2 separate regions of the Homo sapiens genome follow, and region 1 is linked to region 2. A link means that fine-mapping ties the variant in region 2 to the expression of a gene that starts in the linked region. Tissue or cell type: sun-exposed skin. Region 2 holds a variant in brackets; the other region holds the start of a gene. All regions are shown on one strand. Distances are between the middles of the regions.

Evidence for each region. PIP is the estimated chance that this variant, and not a neighbour inherited with it, causes the effect. A credible set is the group of variants that fine-mapping cannot tell apart.
Region 1: P4HA3 starts here. The variant in region 2 is the best candidate, but not a certain one, in a credible set for the expression of P4HA3 in sun-exposed skin (GTEx, PIP 0.66).

What each region holds. Positions count from the first base shown.
Region 1 is chr11:74,308,239-74,315,177 of GRCh38, forward strand. It overlaps P4HA3 (prolyl 4-hydroxylase subunit alpha 3), which reads right to left and starts at 3,402. Exons shown (of 13, transcript NM_182904.5): 1 at 3,174-3,402. The coding sequence starts at 3,373. P4HA3-AS1 (P4HA3 antisense RNA 1) reads left to right here and starts at 3,124. Exons shown (of 7, transcript NR_120556.1): 1 at 3,124-3,211; 2 at 3,587-3,708; 3 at 3,881-3,981.
Region 2 is chr11:74,068,903-74,076,250 of GRCh38, forward strand. It overlaps C2CD3 (C2 domain containing 3 centriole elongation regulator), which reads right to left. Exons shown (of 33, transcript NM_001286577.2): 24 at 5,351-5,698. Among named protein-coding and RNA genes, the nearest start is that of UCP3, 63 kb to the left of the region's middle. RefSeq lists an enhancer at 3,669-3,738. The variant A/T (reference allele first, on the strand shown) is at 3,531.

The DNA.
Region 1 (6,939 bases), 240 kb after region 2:
ACGGTAGCTCATGCTTGCAATCCCAACACTTTGGGAGCCCGAGGAGGGAGGATCACTTCAGGTCAGGAGTTCAAGACCAGTCTGGGCAAGAGAGCAAGACCCCGTCTCTACCAAATCAAACCAAACCAAACAAAAACAAAAACAAAAAAACCCTAGCCAGGCATGGTGGTGTGCACCCGTAGTCCTAGTTACTTGGTAGGCTTAGGCAGAAGGATCACTTGAGCCAGGGGTTTGAGGTTATAGTGAGCTATGATAGAGCCACTGCACTCTAGCCTGGGTGACAGAGCAAGACCCTGTCTCTTAAAAAGCAAACATTTCACTGGGTTTTAGAGCAGTCACTAGAGAACAGAATGACAGAATGACAGTCTTCAAAATATCAAACTAAACTACAAAATTAACTGTTCATAAGTCACCTGAGAAAATAATTGAGAACTTTTCTGATTTGTTTTTTTATCTAGGCTGTCACAATCCTAGTTAATACTTAGAGCCAAAAGTGGGGCCTAGTTTCACTAGATGGTCTTAAAATAAAATAAAATAAAATAATAAGCATAAAGGCTTAGCATTTGTCCATCAATTGTTACATGCCAGGTACAATGATAAAAACTTTTACATGGTACTCTTAATCCTTCCAAAAACCCTATGGTGGTAGGTACTATTTTTATCATCATTTTACAGATTAGGAAACTAAAGCTCAAAGAGGTAAAGTAACTTGTCCAAGATCAGAGCCAACGATTCAAATAGAGGTCTGTTAAACTCCTGAATTCACTGTTAACCACCATGTACTGTGGCCACTAGTAAAACCTCAATTAGTTAGGGGCTTGGTCTATGTCTTGGTATAACAGATAAAAGAAGTGGTAGGGATAACATAGCATAGTAGGAAAAAAGTTGGATAAACAATCAAAACAACTGTGTCCTAGTCCTGGATTTGCTACCTATTAGATTTATTAATACAATCTTGAGTGAGCAACTAGACTTTAGTTTTCTCATGTTTTAACTGATTTCTCAATAGTTAACAAGTGTAATACAAATCTATTTCAAAGCATTGTGTGTGAGAGAGAATCAGATGAGATATGGTTTGTATGAGACCTCCTGCTGTGACAAAGTTGTGATAATGACAGTGGTGGAAAGACAGTGAAGGAGACCAGCATGGTGGAATGGGGTTGGCCAGCTGCTTTGGCCAAAATGCTTCAAGTGCTCTCTTCTGAGAATGTAACCTGAAAGACCAGCAGGGGGATTTTGACCCCCCACTCCCGTCTCCATCTGAGCTACCCAAAGAGATTACTGGTATGAGAACAAGCATGGGTAGCAGGGAGAATGCTGGGCTCTGAAATCAAAGAGAAAAAATTCTGTCCTATTTCCACTAATAAGCTTGGACTCCAATGACTCTGGGCTATGAACAAAAAGAAAACATTTGGCTCGGTCAACATGGACCCATAGAATACTAGACAACTATGCTATTCCAAAGAGTGACAATAATTATTGAAATGATCTTCATTTATTGTTAAAATTAATACATACCTATATTGTATATTGTCACACTATTTCAAGCTGTTTATACGCAAGCCACATACTTAAGGACAAGCACCACATTAGCTCATTCAGTCACTATTAACAAGATCTCTCGCAAATACTTTCCACCCACAAAATGCTTCTCTTCTACATAGCTCTCTCTCACAGTCATGGGGTCACAAAGTTTCGCACAGGGTGACAATGGGTTTGGGGGTCACACTGGACCTCAGAGTCACTCCCCATTCCACATACCTTCTTCTCATGTCACCCCAGAATCAGTATTATTACCACACACACTCACGCAAAGTTTTAAAAGCAGTGCATTGTGCTGTCTTTGCTCAATGATAAGGTCACATGATATAAGTACAATATTAATATATCCAAATAGTGACGTGGTCATAACCACTCTGTCAGTGTTGTAGGCTTCTTGATGTCCCAGGCAGAGAAGGCGCAGCACATATTCATACAGATGGTATCATATACAATCATTTATCTTTCATTTTTGTCAGTTGGACACTGCTAAGTCGATACATGACTATGGTGCCTCAGCATCCCAAGTCTGACAACCTTTTATGCCACAGTGTGTAGCACTAGAGTTTGTTGACTGTACCCCAAAACTATATTAGCTGAGCATCCACTGCTGTGTGCTACACTCAGTATCTTCTGCATCAAGTATGTTTTTTCACAGTGCTTTTTTGATATCAAATATGTTGACACACATATAACATCTCAGTTATCATTTATTTAGTATTTAGAGAGCTTCTACATGTGTAAAGAGAAGGAAGAACTGAAGACGTAGACGGCAGTGGACATCTCTGATTAACAGTCATGGTGCTACAGACCCAAACTCCTCGAGGGCAGAGTTGGCTCTTGATCACCATTTTATCCCCACTGCCTGGAACACTGCCTGGCTCTTAGTAGGCACTCAAAAATATGTGTTGTATGAATTAATGAACTGAAGCATTATTCATATAGCGACCTGTACAGTTACTCAGCATCATTCACATGCAGAGTATGATATCCACAGTGTCGTGCCCATCCAGTCCCAATGACATGTAAACCTCACATATGGTGGAAGACTGTCACCTGACTCCTAACACTAAACATCAGCTCACTAGGTCATGCGGTGTTTCACGATCCCCCCTTGAAAGGTCAATACTTGCGTAGCTAAAGCGTCACCGTATTCTCTCCATGTCACTCTCACAGTGTCTCTGTCACAGCACCGTCCACTGTGTCTGTGTCAGTGTGACACAGGGCCTGGGGCTCACACAGCTTTGCACAGCACATTGTGAGGTCCTAGAGTCACCCCGCCCCGCTCTTCCACAGTGTATCAACTTTGCTGTGTGACGCTGGATATGGGGGGTGCCACTATGTGTGTGATGGAGTCTGCAGTCCCAGTGTGACCCAACCCTCGCCAACACCTCATGCCACGGAGTGTCAGGGTCCCACACAGGGTGACAATGGGTCTAGGGGGTCACACTGGCCCTCAGAGCCACTCCCCACCCCATGCCACAATGTCTCAGTCGCACGGTGCGACAGTGGGTCTGGGGTCCCACGCAGCATGACAATGAGCCTGGGGTCACACTCAACCTGAGTCACCCCACCCTGCGGCACAGTGTATCCCACTGAGGCCCCTCGGTCGCTCCCACTCGTCGTGCCCTCACCTAGTCAGGTCCCGCAGCCGCGCCTCCTCCCCGCGCAGGTACCGCCTCAGCAGCCCCAGCAGCCGGCGCTCGGGCGCCAGGGCGCGCGCCACGCTGGTCAGCGCCGAGAACGTGTCGCCCCGAGCCGCAGCCCTTTCTGGGTCTCCTGTCCCGAGCGCCAGCACCGCCAGCAGCGCCGCCAGCCGCGCCCCAGGACCCATAGCCAGCGCTCGCGAACTTCCCCTCAGACAGTCCTGGCCGCGCGGCGGCAGCCGCTCCCGCCCTCGCCTGCCCCGCCCCTGTCTCCGCCCCCTCCCGGCTCAGGCCCCGCCCTCTGGCCCCGGCCCGGCCCGTCCCGTCCACCGCCCAGTCTCGCTCCACGCCCCCTGACTCCTTCCTTGTTTCGACGCCTCACCTCGCTCTCTATTCCTCAGCTCCTCGGAATGCGTGGGGGCTTCCTGCAACATCAGTCTCCGCCGCCCTCCACTAAATCGCGACCCTGGGAAGGTGTTTCCACTGTGCCCATCACACTAGGGGAAATTGAGGCGGAGGCAGGGTGAGCGATGAATTCACAGGTCTAAGGCTGTGACTATCCCCAAATATTGTTAACACCACGCTCACAGGATCCCCAAAATATCCGCCCCTCTGTACCATGGAGTGGGAATACACAAACACCACTGGATCCCCACAGGGACGTCCAGAAGAGTCAATTATGCGTATGTGAATAGGTGCGCAGGCAAAGAGCGGCAAGAGGACAGCTGGGAGGAAAACCCTCACAGAGAGCGTGACATCTGAGCCATCTGAAGGATAAGTAGGACTGTGTCAGGATGTGAGTATATGACAAATCTAGGACTTACAGAACCTGAAGCTCTGGGGTCCTAAAGTCACTGCTTTACACAATATACTTAGAGTCACTTAAGCAAATAAAAATATTATTATTATTATTATAGCCTACTAGGCTATGTACTCTATTTCCCCCCTCTTATGCATTTCCCAGGCAATGTTCATTCATGCAACAAATATTTATTAGTACCTGTGTTACTGTGCTGCCTACACAGAGAAATAGCAGATCCAATCCTGGACTCAAAGGAGGAGACAGTTATGTAAACAAGTAATCACAATAAAGTGCTGTCAGAGTAACTGAGGGTTGTGCAATATGCAATGGCAACACTGAAGAAGGAACCCTCATGTAGTGGGTGGAGAGGGCATCAGAGAGGAGGTGATGGGTGCTGGTTCAAAAGGATGAAAAAAATTGGAAGTTGACAGGCAAGGGAGGAGTGGGCTTTCCTGGCAGAAGGTACATGGGCGTGACAAGGTTTGGAGGTGGAAAACAGTTTGAGTTCCAGAAATGATGAAAAGTTTCTTGTGCTTGAAACTATCAGATTGTGAAAGGTCTTTGCATGTCATACTAAGAAATTTAGGTGCTTGTCCTCTATGAAAATCCAGTGGAAGTTTTTAAGGTAGCAATAATTGTAATAACAATGGCAACAGTAAACATAGTAGTTAATACTTACCGGGTGTTTCCTGTGTGGCAGTCGCCATCCAGAGTATTTTACATATATTAACTCATTTAATCGCTGTCCAGAGTATTTTACATGTATTAACTCATTTAATTCTCATGCTGACCCTATAGCCTAAGTAATATTAGTATTCTTACAGTATTATTGGCCCCACTTTACCGATGAGAAGACTGAATTGTAGGGACAATCATTAACCTACTCAGTGTTAATCACTTGTGGACCACATTCGAGGTGTGCTGGTAAACCAGCTCTCCAGGAAAAAAATAAAGTTCTGGTTTGTGGCATTTGCCAATTTCTGTGGTGTCAATTCTCCCACAGTGGCTAATTTCGACATGCAAAAATGTCACCACTGACTGTGGTTGGATAAAGATGCCAACAACTCCTGTGAGCTGGGGTGAGCCAGCTCCAGCACACCACTGCTTGTGTAGACATGAGATGTAACATGCAGATCCCCCTTCGAAGAAGGACTTGTTGCACAGCTGCAGGGTATGTGATGAGAAGAGTATCCAGTGGTCAGCTGCTTTAGGGTCTGTCCTATAGCAGAGAGCAGTCTCGCTTAGGGAAATGTCCTTCCTGGAACAGCCCTAATCCAGCAATGGAGCAAGGTGAGGGAATCAAGGCCTAGCCATTTTGGCCCATCGTGAGACAATTCTTACAGGAAATACTAGCTCCAGCGCACCTGCCACCTTGATCAAGGCTTTGTCAAGCCTCTTTGACTTCTTCCTCTGCCTTTTCCTGCTTCCTTTCCCTTTCGTAGATGCTGATCTCTAATAAACATCTTGCACCTCAAACTCCAGCTGTGCCTCTGCTTCTAGAAAACCCAATCTGTAACATCAATTCAATCAACATACATAGTAAGTGGTAGAGAAGGGACTTGAACCCAGGTCATGTGGATCCTGATTCCATATTCTTAATCAATACCAGAGGCAGATTTACCTAGAAGGTTTTGAAGCTTAAGCTTCAAGGCTCCTAGCTTGCACAAACCCTTTCTAACTGAGTAGCCTTCCCATAGAAGGTATTCTGACCATAGAAGATTAGGGACTGTGGTAGGCAGAATCATGCCCTCCCTCCAAAGATGTGCATGTCTTGATTCCCAAAACCCATGACTGTGTTACCTTACATGGCACAAGAGACTTTACAGATGTGATTAAGTTAAGGATCTTGACATTGGAGGATTATGCTGGTTTATCTTGGTAGTCCCGATGCAATCATGAGGGTCCTTAAAAGTCATAGAAGGAAATGTGACAATGGAAGCAAAGTCAGAAAGATTTAAAGATACTTAGTACTATATTGCTGACTTTAAAGATGAAAGAAGAGGCCACCAGTCAAGGATTGTGAACCGCTTCTAGAAGCTGGAAAGGCAAGGAAACAGGTTCTCCTCTAGTGCTTCCAAAAGGAACAGAGACCTGCTGACACGTTGATTTTAGTCCAGTGAAACCCATTTCAGACTTCGGAACTCCAGGGCTGTAAGACAATATATGTGTTGTTTTAAGCCACTGTGTTTGTGGTCATTTGTTTCAGCAACAGTAGGAAACTGATAAAGGAACCCAAAGGTATCTGCTTTGTATTGTCTCTGTCTCTTTAGCCCAAGTGGGCAGTACTTCTATTGATAAAATCATCTTAAAACCTTTGAGGATTTCCTGTAAATCTTATTGGAGTTCTTTCCGTTAGACAAAAACCATATCTATATTTCTTCCCAAGAAGTGCCCTTCTCTAACTTGGGCTGAGACTCAGGGTTGTGGTACAACAGTCTTAAAAGTCTTTTTATTTTTTTAGAGATAGGGTCTTGCTCTGTTGCAAGGCTGGAGTGCAGTGGCACGATCACGACTCTCTATAGCCTTGAACTCCTGGGCTCAAATGATCCTCCTGCTTCAGCCTCCTGAGTAGATGGGACTACAGGCACATGCCACCATGCCCAGCTCATTTTTGTATTTTTTTAGAGACGGTTTCACCATGTTGCCCAGGCTGGTGTCGAACTCCTGGCCTCAAGTGATCCACCTACCTTGACCTCCCAAAGTGCTGGGATTACAGGTGTGAGCCACCATGCCCAGCCAGCCCTAAGATTCTTAGAAGCATTTTTTTTTCCTGGTTGAAATATAAGGTACACCCATAAGATTCTTAGAGACCTTCTACAAAACCACAATATAACCACCAATATTAGGAAACTAACATTGACAAAATACTAATACCTCGAGTCCACATACCTTCTTCAAATTTTCTTGATTGTACCATTTAAATGTGTTGTGAATCTAGGATCCTATCCAGGA
Region 2 (7,348 bases):
TCAAGTGATTCTCCTGCCTCAGCCTCCTGAGTAGCTGGAATTGCAGGCTTGCGCTCAGCTAATTTTTGTATTTTTAGTAGAGAAAGGGTTTCACCATGTTGGCCAGGCTGGTTTTGAACTCCTGACCTCAAGTGATCTGTCTGCCTCAGCCTCCCAAAGTGCTGGGATTACAGGCATAAGCCACTGCGTCCGGCCATCCTCCAGTTTATTTTTAAAGCTGCTATTTGCTAAAGGCCTTGAAACAAAACTATTTTGACTTTGGAAGAAGATAGTTCCTTATTTAGTCTTGAACAGACACATTCCTTTTAGCCAAACAGGTGGGTGAAAAAGAAATCAGCTTGGGAGAGCAGGTCTATCAGGTTTCTCTGGCTCTCCTCTTGTAGGTGGAAATTCATCTGGGCCTGTTTACATTCTGAAAAAGGTCAAGTTCTGAAATACTTTTGGAAGCAGCCCAAAAGAAGGCTGCTATACCCCCCACAGGGTTGGGACACACATTAAGAAGACCTGAGGTGAACCAGTTATGCCATTTAAGAATTTTATGCATCAAGAAAGGTGTAATTGTTTCAGTGAGATTAAAATAACAACTTCTCATATTTAGATAATGCGTTACAGCTTGCACACTGTTTTCTTACACACTAAAGTTGTGCTGATAACGTCTCTGAAAATCGCATAAGATAGGCATCTCTATCCCTATTATAAAAATAAGGCAACCAAGGAACAGAGAAGTGGCTTGCTCATCACATACCTGGTTAACTAGCATTGAGAAGAACCACGGTTTCCTGACTCGTACTTTAGATTTTTTTCCATTGCAATCATTCTAATTATCTCCATCTGGTTAAGAGAAGTGCTCTCCCTTTGGCCTGGAGTGAATGGATGGAAACTTCCCCCTTAAGCAATGTCCAATTTTTTATGTTAATAAAAACTTAGCCCAGCAGGTGTATTAAGCTAACATTAGCTGACACCTCCTCTGTGTCACACCTGTACAAGGTGAGTCAGATTTGATTCTTGATCTGCGGGAGACAAACACAGACAGATAATTACAACCCAATAAGATAAAGACTATGCTAAAAGCACATGGGAACCCAGAGGTGTCCTGAACTCTGCCTTGATGGGCTAAAGAATGCCTCTAAAAGTTGATAATATTGAAGCTGATTTTACTTTTTACTGAGTATAACTTATGCTACTTCAAATCATTTTACCTCTCTGTTCCTTATTTGTCTCATTTGTAAAACAGGGCTAGAAATACCTGTTTTGTCTAATATAAGTATACAAACCTTAAGAGTATTGAAGCTGATCTTAACCGAAGGTTCCTCAGAGCTTTTTCTAACATAAGTATCCAAGAAGTTCTTTTATTTTCAGAACCAGGACTACAGTGGTGACCACAGACCATTTCAGAGCTGCTTCAGAACTCAGCTTTGCTGAAGGCAAAGCTCCTAATTTGGGGCTGTTTGTGAATCCTCTGCATAAAGGTTTGCATGAAGGAACCACTCATTTCCTTCCTTAAGAAAGAGCTTCCAAGGCATAAAAAGGACAGACACTCTGAGAACACTATTAAGGCAAGAGGAAAGTCAGAAGTACAGAGTGTAGAATCATGGTCTCCTACCAGAAAGTTTCTGTCGCCTGTTCTCCATTCTTGCTGCCACCTTGCTTGTTTAGGCTTCAGAACTTGAACTAATGTGACGGCCCTCTCAGTGATTGCTGCTTTCGGTATTCTCCAGTATCTTTTTCATACTGCCACCAAGATTTCATGTCTGGTCAACAAATATGACCTTGCCTCTCCACAGATTAAGATTTTGTTGGTTTCATCTCACCTGCAGTGTCAGTCATGTAGCATACAAAATGCTGCCTATGTAGCCTAATTAGTCTTTCCAGCCCCATTTCTCACTACTTTTTACTCACATTTAATGACCTTTTTTTGGCCAATGTCCCATTCTCTCATACTACCAAGCTTTTGAGCATGCTGTTTCTTCTCATTAGAATGCCTTTTTCCTCTTTCATTCAGCAAACTTGCTCCTCCTCCTTCAAGAGTAGGCTAAAGTGACACCAATACTTGGAAGCCTGCCCTGACCACCCCATTAGCAAAAAAATGCCCTCTGTGTTCTCAAAGTTTTCCTATACTACCACATCCACCTCCCCACAGCTTTCCTCTTTCATATCGTTTATTCCTCTGTACTAAAAATGTTAACATGTCTCTCCATTAGGCTGTTCCTTGGGGACAGGGACTGTGTGTTGTTTGTTTATCCCAGCACTGTGATCTTCATGATGCAGCAAAGCAAACATAATGTCCTCCTGTTTTATGAATATGAGACATAACGCCTCTCACATTTCTGGCAAGAGTTGCAGACCTGTAAATCACTTGTTATTTAGCCTCTTTCTGTTTAGCCAGGTCAAGGCAAGCATAGGGTAGACATCTGACTTTCCAGACGTCACTGTTGTATCCTGATTTCCACCCTGCAGTGATAAGCCCATGCAGTCCTTCCTCCCACAGACATTTATGTGTCAGTCAGGCACTGTGCTGAGCATAGAGTGTAGACCTATAGTATAGAGATCTGCCCATTGTCTCTTTGAGTATAGACCTGCCCATCTGGTTCTGCAGAGCGCATTAACTATGTAACTTCAGGTCATTTTACCTTTTTGAACTTCGGTCTCCTCATTTGTGAAATGATTATGTATTGTAATCTCTTCAAACTATAATCCTGCTCGTGGCAAGGATTAAAGGGGATACAGGGAATAACCCTGATCTGAAATGCTTGGGGCAAGAGGTATTTCAGATTTTGTAATATCTGCATTATACTTATTCAGTATGCCAAATCTGAAAATCTGAAACCTGATATATTCCTATGAGCATTTCCTTTGAGCACCAAGTTGGTGCTTTTGGATTTGGGATACCTAACCCATAATTAATGTACAAAGACTAGAATAGAACTCAGCACACAGCAGATGATGCTCAATAAATTATTATAAAATTTTGCCAAGTGATATTATAAAACTGTAATTCACTGTCTCATTGAAAATTTGTAAGTATATTTTGCTTTTTTTTAACAATATGGGAATTCTCCTAAAATGTAACATATACCATATCTTTTGTATATTAAATTTTATTTTCAATGCAACTACAAAAAAAAACTTTCCAAAAATAAAAGAAGCTTTTTAATACTTTCCTTAAACTCATTCATCTATTGATTTTTTTGGTCTTTAAAAAAAATTTGTCAAAAATGGCTGCTTTGGTGGGGCAGAAAATTTTTTTTTCTTTAAAAACAAGTAAAAATTGTTCAATTTTGTGATTCACACTGCACTTGAAGAAGACTTTGTCCTGATATAGAATGTTTCAAGGTTTCTGATACACAATGGCTGAAATGGATGAGAACATCAAGGATCATTATGGAAGCTTATAATCCCAGGAGTAATGGCTGTTGGTAGTATAAACGGGGAGGAGTAGGAATGAGAGATAAATAATAGTTACTATGAGCACAGGTTTTGTTTCTGTTCTAAAGTAGTAAGGACACATGACACAGTTTGAGAGACACCAA[A/T]ACAGAGATGACAGGAGCCAAACAGAGAGGTCAAATCTGAATCAAATGATGTATATTGAAACTTTCTGGATTCATAAGGCCATGGTTGACTGGCTCTCATAGACACCACACATCTGAACATTGTTAATCACAGCCATTTACAGATGAGAAATTCAAGACAGAGAGAAAGAATACCTTGCTCAAAGTCACACATATGTACACATACAATTTATTGGCTAGGGACACAGGGATAAATATATTCCTACTAGAATGTAATCTCCACAGGGCACAATTTTTGTCTGTCCTTTTTTTTTACTGTTTTATCCCTGGCACCAAGGACAGGGCTTAGCATGTAGCAAATACAGTAAGTTTTGTTGTAAAATAAATGAATGCATGATGAATGAACAAATGAGATGAGGTCTTTGCTTTTGAACAGTTCATATCTAGTTGAAAAGAAAACCATGGAAACAACTGCAGTACTGTGTGACATATGATATGATACAGGGGCAAAGTGCCAGGGGAGCAAATAGAAGGGGGCCTTTATATTGGGAAAGCCCTCCAGGAAATGGTGATGCCTGAGCTGGGTCTGAAGAGAGGAGCTGGAAGTAGCCAGGCAAAAGAGAAGGGTGACGGCAAAGGGGAAATTTTAGGAGATTACAATGCTGAATAAAGGTAGGGCAGGAATTCTTTGTGCCATGGACTCTGGCAATCTGGCAAGGTCTATGGGCCTCTTCTTTTAACAGTGTTTCTTTAAAATGCATAATGTAAAACACATAGGATTACAGAGAAATCCAATTATATTTACATAGAGTTATCAAAACTAAAAGAACTTTGTGATATAGTAATATATGTGCTTTAGTAACAAGGTCTAACTATAGGTAATAACTACTGTAGGTCTGGCACAGTGGCTCACGTCTGTACTCCCAGCACTTTGAGAGGCTGAGGTGGGTGGATCACTTGCGGTCAGGAGTTCGAGATCAGCCTGTCCAACATGGTGAAAACACATCTCTACTAAAAATACAAAAATTAGCCAGGAGTGGTGGCACAAGCCTGTAATCCCAGCTACTCAGGAGGCTGAGGCAGGAGAATTGCTTGAAGCTGGGAGGTGGAGGTTGCAGTGAGCCGAAATCGTGCCACTGCACTGCAGCCTGGGCGACAGAGCAAGACTTTGTTTCAAAAAAAAAAAAAAAAAAATCAAAACAAACAAAAAAACCCCCCTAACTATTGTAATTTCAAAGAAATCATAGTTATAAGTGATATTCTAAGATATCTGCAATAATGATGTGATATGGAAATACCTGTGATTTCTATTGTTGACAATATCACAGGTACTATTACTAGGATCTACTGCCTATATTCATAATGAGAGGAAATATGTTAAATTTTAGCTAGAGGTTGCTAAAAATAAAGATGTAATTATTTTCCTATCCAAGGCCACTAACCCGGAGTTTGAACTTTTCACGGATCCCTTGGATGTTTAAGGACCCAATGTTAAAAACACCTGGCCCTAGGTGCATTAGGAAGGCCTGAGTTGGCAGGAATGCAGAAGGAAGAAATCTGAGAAATTTAATAAAGAACAAGTTAGGGATCCGATGATTTGACAGTGGATAAGGAAAAGAGAAGTATCTATCTAGGTTGAGACTCAGGTGGCTGGACTGGGGAATTTACGATATGCAACAAGTTCAGAAAAGCTTTCATGTTGCTTAAACCTTTAGGCTTGAGAAATAAATATTTATCAGTTGAGATAATTAACAGATCCTGCCATGATTTGAAAGATTTGTGAAGAAAGGAGCACACCCTGAAGAGTTAGACATGCTCCTGGGTAGGTGAGGAGAGCATACCTTTCAAGCTCAAGTGCATTGCTCTTTCTACTAGGATGCTGACTGCAAACGTTCCATCCAAATCAGCAGGGCCCTCCTGCGTCAGGCGGACTTCAGCTGTGGTGCTGCTGCAGGGGACCTGGGTGGAGGCAGGAGACTTCTGGTGGCAGGAGATGACTTCTGGTGGAGAGAGCTGGACCTCATCATTCCTTCTGGGGAGCTGCTCAGACTCACTGTGGCTGCTGCAGTCCATGGAGTCCAGCTCATGAGTGGGCTCAAGGTGTGAGGAAAGAGAGGAAAGAACCACATGAACTCGCAAGGCAGCTCCTGAGAGGTTGGAAGCATTTCGTCCAAACAGAGGATACACACCTAAAAGAAGATGGAGAAGAATAAGGCTAGTCAAGCAGGAACCAAGACCAAGCTTGGAGGAAATACTCACTGAGGGTGCTGTGGTCCTTTCTCCTTTGAAAGGTCTACAAACCCCAATACAGCAATTTGCAAAAGAAACTATGAAGCTGGTAGAAAACATGAAAACTTTTACCCTGCCCTAACTATCTTCAATAATGAAAAGTAGGCTGAGTGTGGTGGCTCACACCTGTAATCCCAGCACGTTGGGAGACTGAAGTGGGCAAATTGCTTGAGTCCAGGAGTTCAAGAGTTTGGGCAACATGGTAAAACCCTATCTCTACAAAAAACACAAAAATTAGCTGAGCATGGTGGTGTGTGTCTGCAGTCCCAGCTACTCAGGAGGCTAAGGTGGGAGGATCACCTGAGCCCAGGAGGTTGAGGATGCAGTGAGCCATGACTGCGCCACTGCACTCCAGCCTGGGTGACAGAGCAAGACTCTGTCTCAAAAAACAAAACAAAATAAAACAAACAAACAAAAGTAATGAAAATAGTAAGATCTCTGATTTAAAGCCAAAGCCAAATGACTACCAGGCAGAGCTGTTGTGGAAGGGATTCATGCGCTGAGAGGCAACAAGACTTAGAGAAGTCTAAGATTTGATGAAATCAAGAGTGGTCTATTTTCTCTTCCTCGTGTCTCATGGGCTCCTGTTTTTCGACCTTCTCCCTATCAGGAGGCTGTCTTGACACTCAATTTAGCTATGTTTCACTAGGGTTCGGGCGATATTTTGGGGGGGGGTGGGGGGAAGTAGGAGGTTAGCAGGAGACCAGAAATAAATACAACGGAGTTAATATTTGTTGAGTGTTTTTCATAAGCCAGAATCTCAGAGGAGTTAAATAAACTGCCAACATCACTCTGGCAGTAAGTGGCAGATTTAAGCCCAGAGACTTGAATTTTACTAACTTGCTGAATATTAAAATGAGATTTATAAAACAGAAGGAACTAATAGTTCCTTCTGAATCTCAAAGTTTGCTTCATTAGATTCACTTCAATTCAGGAAAATGGAGTTAACTGATTCATAGATGGCAATAATATGAAACCTTTCCTGTTTTAGATAACCAGTTTTCTTCTCAAAGCAATGTGTAAATTATTATGATTATCAAAGGAAAATAAGGGCAGGTCATTACAGGTGGGAAGACACCCAAAAGCAACACAGTTAAATCCTTATCCTCAGGAAAATGAATAAAACATGGAAGTAAGGTTGGATGGATGGCTTGACGCATTCAACAAACACATCAAATGACATGCCTTGTATAAGACCCTTGCACAAGAGGATAAAAAGCTCAGACAAGAGGGATATGGAGAAGTATGAGAGAAACGGATGATCTGAAAAGCTAAATACTACCTTTGGTAGCACTCAATAAAAAGAAGTATTTGTGCTTGAGTTCCTATACTTAGATCTATATTCAGTGTCCTAAACCTACTTTCTTCAGCAGAATGAAGCTAAAAGCCTGTCTTTATAAACTTTAGTTTAAGTGAACTTGGTTCACTTCAAGGACATTTTCTGTAGTCCCTTTGAAGGGACTCTAGGCCTGCCCAGATAAAACAGAGCACATGGCATTTGATGTGCTCAAGAGAGCCAGATTTACACCTGTTAGGTCCAGAAAGAACCA